Linked DNA regions of Homo sapiens. Changing the gene in region 4 together with the main gene of any one other region gives a genetic interaction. Each region holds a gene or a part of one and is shown on either strand. Other genes may lie near its edges.

Region 1 (3,718 bases), on a different chromosome or scaffold from region 4:
TGCAGGCCAGGAGCCAGACTTCCCACAAAGGAAAGAGTGGATCCTACACGCTGCAGACAAAAGGACAGAAAGTTCAGACTTGGCTAGGATAAGGGAAGGAGGATTAAGTTCCCACCACTATGACAATGAGGTTAGAAAAAGTATCGCCAGGCCGGGTGCGGTGGCTCATACCTGTAATCCCAGCACTTTGGGAGGCCGAGGCGGGTGGATCACGAGGTCAGGAGATCGATACCATCCTGGCTAACACGGTGAAACCCTGTCTCTACTAAAAATACAAAAAATTAGCCGGGCGTGGTGGCAGGCACCTGTAGTCCCAGCTACTCAGGAGGTTGAGGCAGGAGAATGGCGTGAACCCGGGAGGCGGAGCTTGCAGTGAGCCTAGATTGCGCCACTGCACTCCAGCCTGGGCAATAGAGCAAAAAACTCCGTCTCAAAAAAAAAAAAAAAAAAAGAAAAGAAAAAGAATTCCCAAATGACAATGACACAGGACATACACACAGTTCTGCTGACACCCGGCACTTTATTAGTGGGGAAACTCGCCTTGGTCTGGCAGAGACTGGGATCAACAGGACCAGCACCCATCTCGAGGTGGTATTTTCTGTAAGATCAGGTGTTCCTCCCTCGTAGGTTTAGAGGAAACACCCTCATAGATGAAAACCCCCCCGAGACAGCAGCACTGCAACTGCCAAGCAGCCGGGGTAGGAGGGGCGCCCTAGGCACAGCTGGGCCCTTGAGACAGCAGGGCTTCGATGTCAGGCTCGATGTCAATGGTCTGGAAGCGGCGGCTGTACCTGCGTAGGGGCACACCGTCAGGGCCCACCAGGAACTTCTCAAAGTTCCAGGCAACATCGTTGCGACACACCGGAGACCAGGTGATGAGCTTGGGGTCGGTCATAAGCGCGGTGGCGTCGTCGCTGGGAGCTGGCAGGGCCTCCCGCAGGAAGGCGAAGAGAGGGTGCGCCCCCGCACCGTTCACCTCGCACTTCTCGAAGAGCATGAAGTTGGGCTCGAACCCACCACCAGGCCGGACGTACTTGAGGGAATTCAGAATCTCTTCGTTCTTGGCGTTCTCCTACAGGAGAGAAGGGCAGCTAGAACCCGGGGTCAAGAGGAGGAGAGAAACGTTCTAACCACAAACAAGGGAGATTTTCTATGAGTCACCGGGATTTTGCCCTCCATGCGCAATCCCAAGGGCGGAGAGGAATTTCAGCAGCTACGAGCAACAGAAAGGAAACGAGAGAGTAGCCAGACTCTCCGCGCATGGAGCCGACGGCACCCACCAGCACACCGCCGGCGCCCCCAGCCACTACTGCACGTCCGCCCCCGCCCCGCCCCGCTCCGCCCGGCGCACCTGATGCCCAAACTGGTTGCACGGGAAGCCGAGCACCACCAGGCCCCGGGGTCCGAGGCGCCGCTGCAGCTCGTTCATCTGGGTGTAGTCCCGGACCGTGGTGCCTCAGAGGGACGCCACATTCTCGATAAGTAGTACCTTGCCCCGCAGGGAGCCCAGGCTCACAGGCTCCCCGCCGGCCAGCGGGCGCGCCGAGAAGGCATACACCGACTGGGCCGCCGCCGCCGCCGCCGCTAGCCGAGCAGCACACATGGCGCAATTGTCCAAGAAGCCAGCGGAGCGCCCCGAACAAGCACTGTAAGGGGAGGCCAGCAGGCGCCTCCTTTTAACTGGCCGGCGGCGGGTCACGTGGCACAGGCAGTTTTCCGGGCCTGAGGGTCCCGCCTCATCCGGCCCCCGCCCTACCCGGAGGGCTCGGCCCCTCCTCAGCCAGGAAAAGGCTGGAGAGTGCGCCCGAGCGGGACGCGTGCTCCTCCTAAGCCGGAAGGAGCAGCAGGCATGTCTGGTCTGGCCCAGGCAACCAGGCGGCAGCGGTCCAGGTTACCCTTCCAAGGGCTGGGGCCCTCGAGGGCTCCGTTTTTTCTCAGAGGTTCCTGAGTTAGGATGTGGGGTTTGGCATAGGAGGCTGGTGGGCGACGGCAGCAGCTGCAGGAGCTGCCCGTGCACAAACAGCCCTCCTCTCCTGTGCCATGTTACCGGCAGTGCAGGGGACAGCCAGAGGGATCTAGGCTTCCGGTCTCCCTCCTCCCTGTCTCCAAAGCGGCACCGCCCTCGTGCGGGTTTTCTAACCGGGCAGAGTCCTGGAAGCTCTGCCCCAGCCTCCTTAAGTGGAGCCCAGTAGCTCGCCGAGGCCAAGGAAACGCTGCCGGAGTCCTCCCTCCCTGGCCTCCTCAGGCTGCATTCACCCTACCCCCAAATCTGAACCAGAATGCGGTACAGGGTAATCATTTCCATGTTGTTGGGAGGGACCAGATTAGCTGCTGGGTGGGTGGGAGGTGGGGCACAAGCTAGTCCTTTGCACTCAACAAACCTCTCCAGGGTGAGCTAGGCCAGGAAGTCCTTGCATCCTCCTACCCCCAGCCCTGGAGAGAGCAACACAAACAACAGGATACAGGAAGTTTAGAAAACTGCCTTTATTCTATTAGTAGTTGGAAAAATTAACTGGTACAGAAAAAAAGTTTAGTCAGCTGGAGAGAAGAGAGACTGAGTGCCACCCATGAGAACTGGTGGCTCCTCTGGGAGGGAACCTGGATACAGTGAGGAGAAAAGAGCACTGTGAATTAGAGCCAGATGCTTAAGTCCAGGTGAGACAGGTTATGCCATCTTCCAAAGTGTCTAATTGCCTCAGGCGTGAAACCAATTCCTATTTACTTAGCCCAGCTCCATGGGGTACTGAGATACATGGGGCCGAAAAGGGGTAATATGGCCATCTTTTATCAGAAAAAGTGACAAAACGGGAATTTAAAAAATGAATTTTCCATCTGACTTTATTTCCAAATACACTTTCTTTTTTAAAAAACCAATACACTTTCTTTGAGGATGACAGTATTAGGAAATCCAATTATACAAAAAATACTACATCTAGTCTGGGGTAGATATATTTATTTTTGGTAACATACATTAAGTGGCACTAATTACACAGTAACTATAAGGTAACTAACATGAAACCACAGAACTGTAACTCTGCCACAGCTGCATGAACTTGGGCTTTTCTGGTTGAGCCCATTTTCAAAAAACTGCCCACCCCAGAGCTATGCCAACAAAATCTGTTACGGAGTAAAGCCCTGAAGTGGTGACTCACCAGAGTACCTTGCAGCTGACAGATAATAGGCAGGACATGTTAGTTATAAAGTAGTTACAGCCTAATTCACAAAAGTTACCAACTGTTTCTCTTTCTAGAAAGAAGCAAGAAGTTAAGAAATTCCTTGAATTAGCGCCTGGTGTGTCAGGTGGGAGTGCAGAGGAGGGCTGTTAGAGCAGTGTCAAAAGGACCCTGGTGGGCCAGACGGGTTGGACATCGTTAATAATCATAGTTGGCTTCTAAATACTGGTAGCAAGATGACTTCTGATTTGTAATCTTAGGTAAATTATAGATAAATGAAAAAGGCCAGTAATCATACACTAAGATTAATAAACAGCACTTCAAAATTAACCGCATAAGGGCTGTGCTTGCAGCAAGGTTTCACAAGACAAGGCACCCAGATTTTTTCTTCCCACGTCTAGCTTGCAGAGCAGCTCTCGTAGCCATTTCAAAAACCTCTCTCACTCCATCTTTGGTCTTTGCTGAACACTCCATGTACCCAAAAGCGCCAATCCTGTTTGCCATATCTCTGCCTTCTTCAGGTTTCACCGGCTCCTAGCAAAGAA
Region 2 (4,840 bases), about 26 Mb from region 4:
TGGAGCCGTGGCCAGGGGGACAGCATCCTGGAGCCAGAGTAGGTCCACGGGCTCTGGGGGTCCCTGAGCTTGGCAGCTCAGGTTGAAGGGGGTGTTGGCGGCCACAGTCCTGTCTTCGGGCTCCTCCAGGAAGTAAGGCAAGCCTAGCGGGGTGGGCAGTGGTAGAGGCTGGGGTCCCTCTGAGGCCCCAAGATGCCTGACTCACCACTAGGATGCTGTAGGCTTTGGGCAGCAAACCCACCCTGCAGGGTCATTGACTTGCCTTATCTGATCCCCGAGGGCACCTGAGCCATACCCAACACACACGTGACCCCAATATCTGATTCCTCCCATGTCAGACCCCCCACGATAGCTGAGCTCCTCATGTCTCTCTTCCAGAATGTCTGACAGCTCATCCTCATCTCATTCTATGGATGAGAAAAAAGAGACCGCTGGGGTCGTGGGGACAGGGGTACGTTGCGTGCCTCTGACGCCTTATCTGAAGACCAGAATGGCCTCCTGTGACCTGATGGTGTCTGATGCCTAGGACATCCAACTACCCCCAAGAAGTCTTTTCACCCAGAACATATAATCCCCCAGCCTTGGCACCATAACTTATATGGACTCCCAGCTTCTTGACCACCCAAAACTCTGACATTCTTAGGCTGTATGACGCTAGGTTCATCCTGAATCCTCCAGCACCCTTTGACCTTGACCCCTCAGGATTCCTGACTTCCCACAACCTATGAGCGCCACATGTCCTCTGACCCCTCAGGACCCCTGACCCCAGAGCTCACCCTCCAGCCCAACATAGCCAGGCTGGGACACGAAGGTCTGATGTCCCAGAAACACCAAACACTGGTACTGTCCCGTGTCGGAAAGCTGCAGGGAGGTGATTCTGACAGGGCAAGAGGAGAGACAGAGAGGTTCAGGGTCAGAGCTGGACACTGGGAGGGGGTCTGTCAGAACGGAAAGAGGGTGTCCAGTCTGGAAGCTCATGACAACCACGAAGTATGTCCTATTATTAACTCATTTTGCAGAAGAGGAAAACGAAACCTAGAGGTTCCATCACATGCTCAAAGCCGCACGGCTGACAAGTGGTCAAACTGGGGTTCCCACCCAGGTGGGCTTTCTGCCCTCTGTGTGACGGAGGTGGGAGTGGGATTCGGGGATGTGGCCACACACCTGAGCTGGCTGACCACTATCCAGTCATCCTGTTCATCCTCACCCAGGGGCACCTGGGTCTGGGTGCTGTCCGCGAGCTCCAGGATCTGTCCATCCCGAAGCCAATGTACCTCGGGGGGCTCTCCCTGAACCTGGAGCTGACACCGAAGGGTGCCCGTGAGTCCCCGGGCACCTGTGATATTCCCTGGGTTGCCCACGAAGGGACTTTCTTCAGCCTGCGTGCCTGGAGGGGAGATGGGAAGAGTTAGCTTAGGAACCCCCCAGCTCCTTCCGGCCCTCAGTTCCACCCTGTCCTTGCCTGCCCACCGGCGGCCAGGACCCCGCCAGGCCCTTAGGCCGACATAGTTGCAGAGTGACCTCAGAGTGGGGTGGAGGGCGGAGGCTCTGAGAGGAGGACGGGAGCCCTCCCAAGGGACTGGGATCTAGCGTCCATCCCGTCGGGAAGGAGGCTCGGGATCTGGCAGCCTCCCACGCCCTGCACTGCCTGGCAGGGCCAGCCCCTGCCCCCTCCGTCCTCTCTTAGGTCTCTAGAGACTTAACAGGTCGCGCTGGTGCTGGTGGATGGAGGGGAAGAATCAGGGGTTGGGGGAGAGAGATAAGGGTGGTGGTGGGGGGAGATAAGGGTGGTGGCGGAGGGAGAAGCCAGAGAAAGGCAGGGGAGATGAGACAGAGAGGAGCACAGATACAAGGCAAGACAGAAAAAATGAAGAAACAGCCCTCAAGAGAGAAGAAAAGGTGGGGGCGGAGGGGGGATACAGTCACAGAGGGAGGCTGAGAAGAGAGAGAGAGACTCAGAGAGCAGGGAGAGATAAAGGCAGAGACTGTGAAAGAGAGAGAAACAGAGACCCACAGAGATAGCAGAGCTGGAGGCAGAGACAGAGAGACAAAGTGAGAGCCTCCTCCCCAGAGATGGAGTGGACTGGTGGGGTAGGGACAAGTGGCGGGTCAGGGGGGTGGTGTTGGCAGGGAGAAGCGTTTTCCCCCAGGGCTCCAGAGCCCTCCTCATCCCACTGCCTGACTCGGTGCCCCTTCGGAAAGATTTCTTCCTTCCTGGCGACCCTCAGCTCAGCCCCTCTCCCCATGGCCCCCTTCTCAGGTCCAGCCCCCACCCCTGCCCTCAGCTTCTCCTTGTCTGTCTGTCTCTCCGGGTCCTCTCTTCTGTCCCCCCTGCCCTTCAGTTCCTCTCTCAGTCTTTCTCTCCCTCTGCCGCACTTGGTGTCTCTGAGTCTGTGTCTCCCTCCCTTGAAGTCCCTTTTCTGTGGTCCCAAGGAAACTCCCTAAGCCAGCCCAGGCCCCCCACACCTGCCATCATCCCCCACCTCCTACCCCTGCCCCAGCCCCTCCGAGGGGATCCCTGCCCCAAGGAGCCCCCATCACTCACCCCTGGGGGCCATGCACGCCCAGCCGCACAGCGCCAAGCACCAGGCCAGCGGGACCCTGCCCATCCTGGGGCACCGCCACGCCATGGGTGCCAAACTTTCCTCAGAAGTTGTTGGGCTCCCAGCGGGGGAGGGGGCAGGGCCGGGCTGTCCCCGGCCCTCCCCCCAGCTCCAGGCTCCCCGGATTTGGCACTGCCTGCCTGGCACAGCGGCAGGGGAGGCCCTTGCCACCGGCTCTGCCCAGCAGCCGCCTTCTCAGCACCCCTGCCTCCTTCCCTCACTCCCAGACTTGGGCAACCCTTTCTCCGCCCCTGGCTCCCCCTTTGCCTCCGCCCACCAGGGCCAGAGCCCAGGGGCCACCTGGACAATCAGGGGTTAACTCAAGAGAGGAGAGGATCAGCTCTTTCTTAAAGGGGCCAGGGAGGGAGCTGAGGAGGGGGAAGGGGACCCTGGTGGCTGTGCCCCCTGTCCTGAGCCAGTGAGGCCGTGTCTCTCTATCCGGGCTCTGGGCGCTGTCCCTCTGGGCTCTGTGTCTGGTAAACATTCCTCCAGAACTCCACTCCCCTCTCAGCTCAGGCCGTGACGCCCCTCTCCCCGCCTCCACCCCCAGCCCAGCCCCAGCCAGGCCTCCTTGGCCCTTCATTCCCCCTCACTCTCTCGGCTCCTCGGACAAGGACACACACACACACACACACACGCACGCACGCACGCACGCACACACACTCTTAGACGTCACTGACACACACAGGCTAGGACAAGCAGAGACACGCAGAGGGACCCAGACGGGCAGGGGCATGCTACTGGCCCACAGACACACTCAGACAAGCCAGGCCAGGAGCTCGATTCCTGGAGAAACCTCAGAGACAGGAGGACACGGCTGGGTGGGCATCCATGGGGGACACTTACTTGGGGAGACACAGATCTTCAGACACGCCAAAACCTGCATGGACGCCTAAATGGGACACCAAATACAGGCGACATGAAGGGGACCCAAGTTGGAATCCCAGTGCTACCACTAACTGTGGGCTACAGGCAAGTGACTGGCCTCCTGAGCCTCAGTTTGTCCATCTGTAAAATGGGAATAAGAATAGTTGTTGGCCGGGCACAGTAACTCACTCCTGTAATCCCAGCACTTTGGGAGGCCAAGGTGGGAGGATCGCTTGAGCCCAGGAGTTCGAGACCAGACTGGTCAATGCACTGAGACCCCCATCTCTACAAGAAGTTTAAAAATTAAAACTTAACCAGGTATCATGGCGTGTGCCTGTGGTCCCAGCTACTAGGGAGGCTGGAGTGAGAGGAACGCTTGAGTCCAAGAGATCGAGGCTGCAGTGAGCCCTGATCATTCCACTGCTCTCTCCTTCTGGTGGGACTGTGTGTCCTGGTTATTGCAGATCTGCTGCCTGCGTATCGGCTCTGCTGCACTTCCATTCCTCGGCCCTGTGTGTTTGGCACGTGGAGGGCTCTGCATGCCTGGATGTCTGTGAGGAGGAGGCTGGGCGTCTATCCCTCTGCTCTTGGCCACCTGTGTTTGGGTACTGGTATACCTACGGTGCATCATAAAGTCCTATCTGTTTGGCCTCCTGATGTCTCTTCTACCTGCCCCTTCCCAGCACCCCCGTCTGATCCTGCCTTCTCCTGCCTCTACTGTCACTCCTTTCTCCCATTTAGCAACCAGAGGACTGTTTCTGAAAGTCAAATCCTACCCTGTCCCTTCTCTGCTTGCCCATGGCCTCCTGCTGCCCTCAGGGCAAGCTCCCAGCTCCTTGTCACTGGCCACTTAGGGCCCTTCACCGTTGTCTCCCTGGGCTGTGTCTTTTTTTTTTTTTTTTTTTTTGAGACCCAGTCTTGCTTTGTTGCCCAGGCTGGAGTGCAATGGCTCGATCTCGGCTCACTGCAACCTCCATCTCCTGGGTTCAAGTGATCCTCCCACCTCAGCTTCCTGAGTTGCTGGGATTACAGGTGTGCACCACCATGCCAGGTTAATTTTTGTATTTTTGGTAGAGACGGGGTTTCACCATGTTGGCCAGGCTGGTCTGGAACTCCTGAACTCGTGATCTGCCCGCCTCGGCCTCCCAAAGGGCTGGGATTACAGGCGTGGGTCACTGTGCCCGGCCATGGGCTGCTGGCTTCTGTTGCTCCTTCCAACCTGTCTCCCACTCAACAGTCAGAAGGCTTCTTCCCAATCTCAAACCAAACCCTTTCCCACCTCTGCCCCAAACCTTTCAGCAGAACCCTAAACTCCTTATGTTTCTGTGACCCTCCCCTCGCCTCCCCAGGCTTCTCTCGCTTTCTCACCC
Region 3 (4,744 bases), on a different chromosome or scaffold from region 4:
TAGACAATTGGAGACTCCAAAAGGTGGGAAGGTGGGAAGGTGGGAGGGGGCAAGGGATAAGAAATTACCTATCAGGGCCGGGCACAGTGGCTCACGCCTGTAATCCCAGCACTTTGGGAGACTGAGGCGAGTGGGTCACCTGAGGTCAGGAGTTCAAGACCAGCCTGGCCAACATGGCGAAACCCTGTCTCTACTAAAAATATGAGAAAAAAAATTATCCAGGCATGTGGTGGGCACCTGTAATCCCCGCTACTAGGGAGGCTGAGGTAGGAGAATCGCTTGAACCTGGGAGGCAGAGGTTGCAGTGAGCCAAGATCGCGCCACTGCATTCCAGCCTGGACAATAAAATCAAAACTCCATCTCAAAAAAAAAAAAAAAAAAGAAAGAAATTACCAATTGAGTACAATATACACTATTTGGGTGATGATTACACTAAAAGTCCAGACTTTATTACAACTCAATATACATATGTAACAAAAATGCACATGTAGTCCGAAATCTATAGAAACAAAAATTTTAAAAAACCAAATTGCAGTGTTAGAATACACATAGTATGTATTCAAATTCAATCATTTAAAAACCTGTAGGAAGCAAATTAATTTAAAACATTATCAAAAACATCCCTCTATTAAGATTTGTCACTTTTATTTACTTTCCATCTGAACAGTCTTATTCAATGGGAAACAGGTGGATCACTAATAGCAAGCCTACCTGGATGGTACATCACCACAGTCTGTGTATCTATGCAACAGTCCAGAGTAGATGAGCGTTATTACTGTGCCATTAACAAATGCAAAACCTAACTTTATCAGGCTTTCATAGCAACTTGCTTTCCTACAGAAAATCCTGTTGCTTACAGAATTTCCTGCCACAAACATTTTTGGGAAGCCCTCAGGACACTTACACAGGCTTGTGAATCAATCACATGCTCAGCAGGTACTGTTCAGTGGGATACACAGTGTAGCGATGCATCACTCTGAAATATTTTAGTTTCTTTTTTTCCCCTAAATCTGGGTATGTTCGTGGGAATTTGCAGCACATGTGAACAACTTCTGTCATTCTTGCATGAGGCAAAGGGAATTGAAAACCACGATTACTTTAGAAAACTAGTTTCACAGATTGGTCACTGTATAAAAGAAGGATATTGGTTTTGGTAGCTTGTGACCACACACCATTTCTGATCTGAATAAATTCAGAACTTATAATACAGTTCAGAAATTGAATGCAGTTTCTCAATATGAGGAAAGTATTTTAGAATAAGGCCTATTTTTCAAAGGATCTGTGGAAATCAATGCTATGCTCTCATTTAGGAGATGGAAAGAGTGAGGTTAAATTATCATTTCGATTAAATCTACAGTCCAGATTACTGGTGGATGAATTGAATGTACTTTTTTATTCATATAAAACATTTGAAATCAGAAATCTGGAGTACTTTTAAATCCCATTATTTATTTTGTTTTAATCGCCAGGTAATTCCTGAGACAGGAGTGTCCCGAAGAGCCTTTGCAATTATGTAAGAATCTCCGAGGCAGTTCTTATGTTCCTCAATTCAAAAGAACCACATAACTGCAATTTAAATAACACCCCACACACACACACAAAATAAGGTCGAAGTTTATCTCAAAATAATTTCCCCTCTCTACACTGGGATAAATATGTATAGGAATAATAGGGGGAAATTCAGTGCACTGAGCATTAAGCTGTCAAAACAGGAATGTTTAAAATATCCTGTTAGTGGTTTAAAAATAATTTGTACTCTAAGTCCAGTGACTATTTGCCAGGGAGAACCAAAGTTGAGAAATTTCTATTAAAAACATGACTCAGAGAAAAAAATGCAGAGGCCGGTAATGAAGGAAATGATTGGATCTCATTCCCAATTGGTCATTCCTAAGATCACATGTTCTGAGCATCTTTAAAAGGAAGTTATCTGGACTCAAGAGGGTCACAGCACCCTCCTGAAAACTGCAGCTTCCTTCTCACCTTGAAGAATAATCCTAGAAAACTCACAAAATGTGTGATGCTTTTGTAGGTACCTGGAAACTTGTCTCCAGTGAAAACTTTGATGATTATATGAAAGAAGTAGGTAAGGAAATGCGTTGTGGAATGACTGGATTTATAATATTTTCTTTTGGGAAAAAGAGTTTACAGCTGTGTTTATAGCAATGTCTGGAAGCCCTGGCCAGAAATGAAAAATGCTGCTTTCTATAGAGAGGCTGCACACATAGCAAGTGATAATCATTTGTTTCTAGAGAAATTCTGAACCAAAGCTACAACTAATGTTTCCTAAAGGTGTACCAATATAAAAAGGTGTCTAAATGGAATGTTTATTGTCTTTAGAAATGATAAGATTTGACTTTATTTGAAAAACTTGGGTATCCTTGGTTTACTTAGCTCTTTGCCTGTTTCTCTTTCATCCCCTTTTGCATGTAAATTAAGCAATAACTTGGAAAAAAGTTAGTATGCAATAATTTTCATTTCAAACTGAAAGCACTCTAGTTCCCTTAATGCAAGGTTCTTTTTCAGTAACCGTATGTTAGCCAATTATTTTCTTGTCTCAATGTTAATCTATTAAAATATGTGGTTGTTTTATGATAGACAAAAATTTTAATTTCAGAAAATATGTTTCTTAAATGGCTTAAATACTTCCTTTGACTAGAAATGACATAGTATGCCATAGAATTATCAACCAATTTAAAAGGAGAATGTTACGCATATAACATACCTCTTCTTTGATAGTAGAGGTTTTTAATTTTTTAGACGCTGTTAACTGTCAGCATGTCATTGGATGAATGTCTCTCAGATAACTATGGAGGTAAATCAGAAAAGACAACTTCTCACTCAGGCAGCTTCTACTTTGAAAACCTTTCTCCCTCAACCCCATGCATGACAGTCCAATAAAGTCAGAACTGGGGTTAGCAAACTGGGGAGGAATTTTATGCAATCTTAGGGTTTAGAATGTAATCATTAAATCGCAAAACACTTAACCCTCCTGTAAATTATACAGTATATATTTTTTTGCTTGTCTGTAACTATGTTTCTTGTTTTTAGATGATAGGGAAATTGGTGACTTCAGCATGAGAGAGACTTTCTAGAATAAACTAGAGTGATTCAATAAACTAATTAATATGCACTGATGCAGAAAAGCCAGGATTTGGGGCCATTTAACTATTTATTTTTAGAAAAATGTTATACTTTTAATATTTATATTTTCTAATAATACTGTGTTTTTAAATTATAAAGGGCTGATTATAATTAAAGTCAATAAAACACCTTCTGCATGAAATTAGCTGCTGTAATTGAGGATGAGTGGGCAGGTATTGTCTTCATCATCAAATAAAAGCAAAATCAAGCAAATGGAGACTGGTTTTTCCCAAGGTCAGTCATTCTAGAATCACACTCAGTTTTGCCTGCATTCACGAAGTGGACTCACTTCATACATTTAATGTTATATTTTGTAACTGAGCCAGGACATGAAGACACACCTGTGGCCATTTTTCAGACAGACAGCCAAATCGGAGCCTCAGCATTACTTATTTTGCGCCATATATCTCTCCCAGTTCTTCCCAATTTCTAACCTTTGGTTGCCTTTAGTCAAAGAAAGAGCTTAGATTTACATGCACATGTTTAAAAAATTCAGCAAATCTATGACTGCCATAAACTCTGCATGACATACACAGTGTCAGCAAGTTACTGCTATGTTAGGCTGTAAATTATTCATTCCATACCTTGCACAAGAAAATATATTCCCCTTTTTAAGAAAGAAAAGTTCACAACTTAGGTGACTGGAAATCAAAGTATTGGCTTCTAACCTATTTTAAACTAAGAAATAGTGATTTATTAAATGTTAAAGTTTTCACAATTTGATGACTAGTCCCTTTTAAATATCCCCTATAAATTATTAGCAATGATATCACCATTCTAAAATGTTATAAATGTAGGAAACATTTTGCCTTTTGTAGAAATTCATGAAAATCTTCATTTCATGGTGGAGTAATTTGAGAAAGAAGCACAGAAAAGTAGACTTGGCAACAAATGCTATGAAATGTGACTTTTGTATACTCAAAACAGACGAACCTTTAACTAAATAACTCTACATTAACCCCCAAAATTCTGTTGAAAATTCTGTCTTTGTGCCTTCTTAAATGTAATATTGAGTATCTAAGATGGAATGGTCAAGTAGCCTCAAGTATTTTATTAAGAGAGAAAAATAACAGTGGCTAACATTTTAAATATATATCTTCCCAACCACTTAACCTTTATACATATTTTTGTTGAAAATAAACAATGGGTCTCCTGAGAAGTTGTATCCAGACCAGAGAAAGGGAAGTTTAAAGAATAGGCCTACACCTATTGTTTCTCAGAGGTTGTGTTTTTGTTTTCTTTGTGGGTTTTCTTTTTTTTTTTTTTTTAAGTATTGGCCTGATTTTATCTGCAGGAGCTGTTTAAATTAGGCCTTTAAGAAACTCTCTGTGCCTTTTTCCTCCTGCACATGCACCTGTGTGCACACACACATTCTCTGACTTGGATAAGTACGTGAGAGAAAATGTAAATCTGACATCTTTTCTTTTCCTAACTGTAGGAGTGGGCTTTGCCACCAGGAAAGTGGCTGGCATGGCCAAACCTAACATGATCATCAGTGTGAATGGGGATGTGATCACCATTAAATCTGAAAGTACCTTTAAAAATACTGAGATTTCCTTCATACTGGGCCAGGAATTTGACGAAGTCACTGCAGATGACAGGA
Region 4 (4,862 bases):
AAGCTCTATTCTCTCACCTAAATTCAGATCATAGAGAAACCTACCTTGCTCAGCAGAAGCACATCAATGAAATCCAAAGTCTTGGACTTGGCTTTGTCTTTGAAAAAATCATCAATACCCTGAGTGGGGAGGGTGCGACGCCGCTCCCGGATGACAGCGTCTGTGAAGTCATGCACCAGGCGGCAGGCCCTGTGGAAGCGCCGCCCGTCATGGGAGAGGTAATACAGAAAGTCCATGTGCTGGAGGATATGCTGGCTTCTTTTCTCTACAAGGGCACTGAGCTCCAAGATGGTGGCAATATATTCACTGGGCCTCCTGCAGAGCAAGGGCAGAAAGGGAGGCAACAATGTAACGTATGCAAAGCCCCAGGAACACCTCCCACCAGCAGCCAGGAGCTACCTCCCATCAGGAAACTGAGTATCTAGAAATAGATGGTCCTAGAGATACATGGTGGGTATCAGTCATGAGACTGACTCTCTAGACTGTCTTCTCTCCCTGCATCCTATCTCTGAGAGAGCTGTCTCCATGCACCTAGGCACCTAGAGTATAGCTTGGACACCATGCTTCTCTCCTCTGTCTCCCATCCAGTATGCAGTACTGATCATTTTCCTTACCAAAACTGTCCACACAACTCAGACTTCATCCTCTTCCAGTTCAGCCCTGCTCCAGCCCCCAGCATAACCAACTCTCTCTCTCTTTCTCTCTCTCTCTCTCTGTCTCTCTGTCTCTCTCTCTCTCCCTCTCTCTTTCACCCTGTAAGAAAGAAGAAGCAGCTGGGCACAGTGGCTCATGCCTGTAATCCCAACATTTTCTGAGGCCAAAGAGGGCACATCACCTGAGGTCAGGAATTTGAGACCAGCCTGGACAACATGGTGAACCCCCTCTCTACTGAAAATACAGAAATTAGCTGGGCGTGGTGGTGGGCTATCAGTTTCCCACACAGCTCAGCTCTTATCACATCCATCATCAGCTGAAACTACAAAAGGTCTCTGGAAATGTCTTGATAAACTTCATACCACTTTTCCTGATTTTCAGTGCCCTTAATATCTAGCCCCTACTTCCACAACCTCATTTCTACTGTCTCTTGCACATGCTTGGCTCATCCTAACCTTCTTGCTTTTACACACATATTTCTACCTGGAAAGACAGCACTTTCTCCTCTTCCTCGACCTTCAAAGCACAGCTATGATACAAATCCTCCCGAAAGGTACTTCTGGTTACTTTGCTCATTCCTCCCTCCCCAACTTTCTCCCTTTGGTCCATGGATTCATATCCCAGGCCCTAGGAAGGAACTCACTCCTGACAATGGCTGTCAAAGCTGAAGATGCATTTCTGTAGACTGTCCAAGGTCATGAGGCTGATGTGCTCAAACATGTCCAGACGACTGCTGCCCTCTGAGGCCAGGTGCTGCCACTTGTCCTGGCCAGAGAAGGGAAGAGAGCTAGAGCTGGGCCCTGCCTCCTTTGTGCCCCTCCCCAGTCCCAAACATCAGGATGGACTCCCCCACAACCAGCCTCCTGGTCCTCTGCCCCAGGAACCCATTGCCAGCGAGGACCAGACTGGGATGCGAGCAGAAACTGTTAGTATAGGAGATGAAGACCCATGGCTTGGAGTCAAGAGACCTGCATTCAAGTCTCAGCTCTGTCTCCTATGCTCTATGTGCCCTTGGTCAACATATTGCCCTCCTCTAGGTCCCACCTGTCAAATATTCAATAACGGTCAAGGTGATCTGCTTTGGGGCCAGATAAACCAGGATAGAATCTCTGCTCCACCAGTCCTAGCTCACTTCCTGGCTGGTTGAACTCTGTCCAGCTCCCTAATCTCTCTGGCCCTCAGTTCATCATCTGCAATAGGACAAAAATAACCATAACCTCACAGGATTATTAAAATTAACTTAGACAACTTATATCCTGGCATTGGGACATGACATTTTCTCAGGCATATGATGAGTAAATGTTTGCTTTATTCATCTCCATTGTAATAAATTCATTTCAAAAATATCCCTGTGTTGGAAGAGGCACTTCTTCATCAGCCCTGAGCATCCTTGCTGCGTATGCCACCAATGCAAGACTGTGATGTTCTTACCTGAGCCATTTCTCAGAGTTGTATTTGCAGATAACCACCTGGAGAGATAAGGCAATGACTCCTCCTGGACCAATATCAGGCTTGTTTCTGCCACTATTAAAGTAGATTCCCTAAGCCTAATGCCCATTGTATGTCATGCAATGTACTGCATGAGCAGGCTAATGTAGAGGCCCACCAGTGTCACCCCCATGGAATTTAGGTTGACTCAGAAAAAGGATACAAACCAACAAGAAGTACATGTTGCTTATTGTGCCATGAGTAATCAACTACCCTTTGTCTCTGACCCAGGAATCTGTTAGAATGCATGAGACAGTAACAAGCTAACTTATCAGTTTGCATATTTAAAACAAATCCTAGACACTTCACAAAATCCTGACCCCCAATTCTTCACTTCTCCCTGTATTCGTACCCTTTCCACAGTAATTTTTCAGCAACTCCCATTAAGAGATGCGTTCTATTTTACACCCCTTTGAGTCTGTACTGGACTTTTGACTTTCGACTTTCTTTGGCCAGTACAATGTGGTGAAATGATGATGTAATAACTCTAATAGACTCAAACCTGGTTGAACTTTGAAGTATTGCAGAGACAATGTCCACAGACATTGCAGCCTCCTCTCAGTTTCTCGGAGCCCAGTCTCTGCCATGTGAACAACAGGGTGCCTTCTGGAGGCAGAGAATCACATGGGGGAAAGTCCAGGTGTCACAGCTGAGCCCATCCCAGATGAGTCTGAAGGTACTGAAGCCCCAAACGTGAATGAACTGAGCCAGGATCAGCAAAGCTGCCCCCCGACCCACAGCTGCTCATGTGCCAAGAGTGATCCCTTCCACATCCAGAAGAACTGGCCAGCTGTCTCACAGACTCGTTAGCAATTGTAAACCCTTATGGCTCTAAGCCAATGAGTTCTGAAGTGGTTTATAATCAGCAATGACTACTACACAATCTTCATTTTTACTCTCTTGAGTTTACAGGGATTCTGTGAGAAAAACACAGAAACTGACACCTTCTGAGAACCTACTGTGTGCCAAGTAAATGACCTTTCAAGTAGGGATTATCATCCCCATTTTACAGATGAGGAAACCAAGGCTCAGAGAGGAAGAGCAATGGCCCAGTGCCACCCAGAAGAGCCAAAATTCCAGACCAGATGTGTCCATGGTCCCTCCACCCCAAGACTCCATCTGGGACCCAGACTTCAAGGGACTCACAAGCATGATGTTTGCACTCTTGTTGAAGATCGTTATATAGGACTTCAGGATGTTGAAATGGAAGGCGGGCGTCAGCATCCGACGGTGGCGGCTCCACTTGTCACCGCCACTCAGCAGTATCCCTTCTCCTAGTAGGGCAGCCAAGGACAGTGGGCAAGAGCAGCACTTCCCCTACCCTCCCCGCAAGGTTGTCCCCAACCCCTTTCACCTGCAGGTACTCACCCAGCCAGGGCTTCAGGAACCTGATGAAGAGATTATCCTTGGGTGCAATGGCAGCTGACATGAACGAGGACCATCAGGGGCCATGTAGAGGGCAAGAGAGGAACTTCAGGTATAGGGCAAGGCTGCCTACCAGCACTTTCCCCACTCCATGCCCAGCATAGCAGGAAGGGGGCCAAGGGCAAAGGACGAAGGGAGGATAGAGGAAGAAGGACCAGCCCAGGCTGCAACAGCACAGTAAAGCTATGACACAACCTAACAGGTCATAGCACACCCCAGCACGCCTTGACATGGCTCCTATATATCCCAACATGTTCTGCAACAACTGAACACAGCTCCACACTCTACAAAATACCTTTAAAGGACCTCGGACACCCTGTCTGCCATAGCACTCTCTGTCATCTCCTGACATGGACCTGAGATAGTCTGACATGACCTCTGTGTACCCCACAGACAGGCCCCAGATAGGGTTTAAATGTGATTTCTTAAATGTCCCAGACATGTCCCAGGTGGAACCAAGAGTTTTCTTCAAGCGTGATTAGAATGGATTCCGAAACCTGGCTCAGGGAGACTAAAATAATAACTCTGACAATTCCAAAGAGACCCTAGCTCCCAGACCTTGGACAAGCTACAAACATGGCCAAGAGATGACAAGGAGGAGAAAAGACAATTTCAAATCACATGTCAGAGAAGAACCAGAAAGTCTCTGACATGCCCCAAGTGTCCTCGACCACAGCTGAGCCACACACATGATGACTTCTCCATATGATCCCAGGTTAAACAGAAAAGATATAACCAGGTATAATATTGAAACTATAGGCGGCTATTTATGGGACCCCTGGGGGTAAGGTGAGCTTTCGGACAAGAACTGAGCTGCTAGGACCCATGGTTGACAGATAAGAGAACGGCTGCCTTAAAAGAAAAAGTGATGCAGAGAAATGGTGAAATTAAGAAAAGGAGACAGATCCCTGATAATGTTCATTGACACCTGGATTCAGCCATGCCTGAAGACCACCCTCCCTGAAATTTACACTCCTTTGACTCTCTTTATTTGCTTAGAGCACACGAAGTTGAGTTTCCATCACTCACAACTGAAAGAGACCTCAGCAGCCAGAGAGCTGGTGACCTGCACAGAGTCACTAAGGATTTGGGGGTCAGAGCCATAGATTTTGTGGGATGCTGCCACTTCCCTAGCTCAGCCTGGTGTGTCCAAGGATGAGAAGAGCAGAGAGCAAGGGGAGGTCAAGCAGCTGGTGTGGGTTCTCCTATTGGAGAATCCTGAAGCCCATAGGAGGAGAGCAGGAAACTTAGGGTGGATGAGTGATAGGATGAGGTAGAAGGAACTGACCCATCAT

What was found. Genes that interact genetically often act in the same process or in processes that back each other up.
Region 1: changes in CYP4F12 (region 4) and GPX1 together harm fitness more than expected from each alone (negative genetic interaction), as found in Homo sapiens cells (one large-scale study listed by BioGRID).
Region 2: changes in CYP4F12 (region 4) and AXL together harm fitness more than expected from each alone (negative genetic interaction), as found in Homo sapiens cells (one large-scale study listed by BioGRID).
Region 3: changes in CYP4F12 (region 4) and FABP4 together harm fitness more than expected from each alone (negative genetic interaction), as found in Homo sapiens cells (one large-scale study listed by BioGRID).

The regions. Positions count from the first base shown.
Region 1 is NC_000003.12:49,356,676-49,360,393, forward strand, and holds GPX1 (glutathione peroxidase 1), read right to left. Parts: upstream 1,679-3,718; 5' UTR 1,604-1,678; coding exon 1,490-1,603; coding exon of another isoform or gene 1,307-1,489; exon of another isoform or gene 1,214-1,306; coding exon of another isoform or gene 1,151-1,213; exon of another isoform or gene 1,092-1,150; coding exon of another isoform or gene 1,073-1,091; coding exon 713-1,072; 3' UTR 501-712; downstream 1-500. Other genes in the region: transforming protein RhoA isoform 1 precursor, read right to left, coding at 3,534-3,707.
Region 2 is NC_000019.10:41,217,183-41,222,022, reverse strand, and holds the start of AXL (tyrosine-protein kinase receptor UFO isoform 1 precursor), read right to left. Parts: upstream 2,801-4,840; 5' UTR 2,631-2,800; coding exon 2,546-2,630; intron 1,388-2,545; coding exon 1,165-1,387; intron 878-1,164; coding exon 777-877; intron 144-776; coding exon 1-143. UniProt on the Homo sapiens protein: Receptor tyrosine kinase that transduces signals from the extracellular matrix into the cytoplasm by binding growth factor GAS6 and which is thus regulating many physiological processes including cell survival, cell proliferation, migration and differentiation.
Region 3 is NC_000008.11:81,480,434-81,485,177, reverse strand, and holds the start of FABP4 (fatty acid-binding protein, adipocyte), read left to right. Parts: upstream 1-1,944; 5' UTR 1,945-2,010; coding exon 2,011-2,083; intron 2,084-4,579; coding exon 4,580-4,744.
Region 4 is NC_000019.10:15,678,946-15,683,807, reverse strand, and holds part of CYP4F12 (cytochrome P450 4F12), read right to left. Parts: intron 3,565-4,862; coding exon 3,511-3,564; exon of another isoform or gene 3,417-3,510; coding exon 3,289-3,416; intron 3,119-3,288; exon of another isoform or gene 2,095-3,118; coding exon of another isoform or gene 2,086-2,094; exon of another isoform or gene 1,699-2,085; intron 1,420-1,698; coding exon 1,298-1,419; intron 316-1,297; coding exon 45-315; intron 1-44. UniProt on the Homo sapiens protein: A cytochrome P450 monooxygenase involved in the metabolism of endogenous polyunsaturated fatty acids (PUFAs).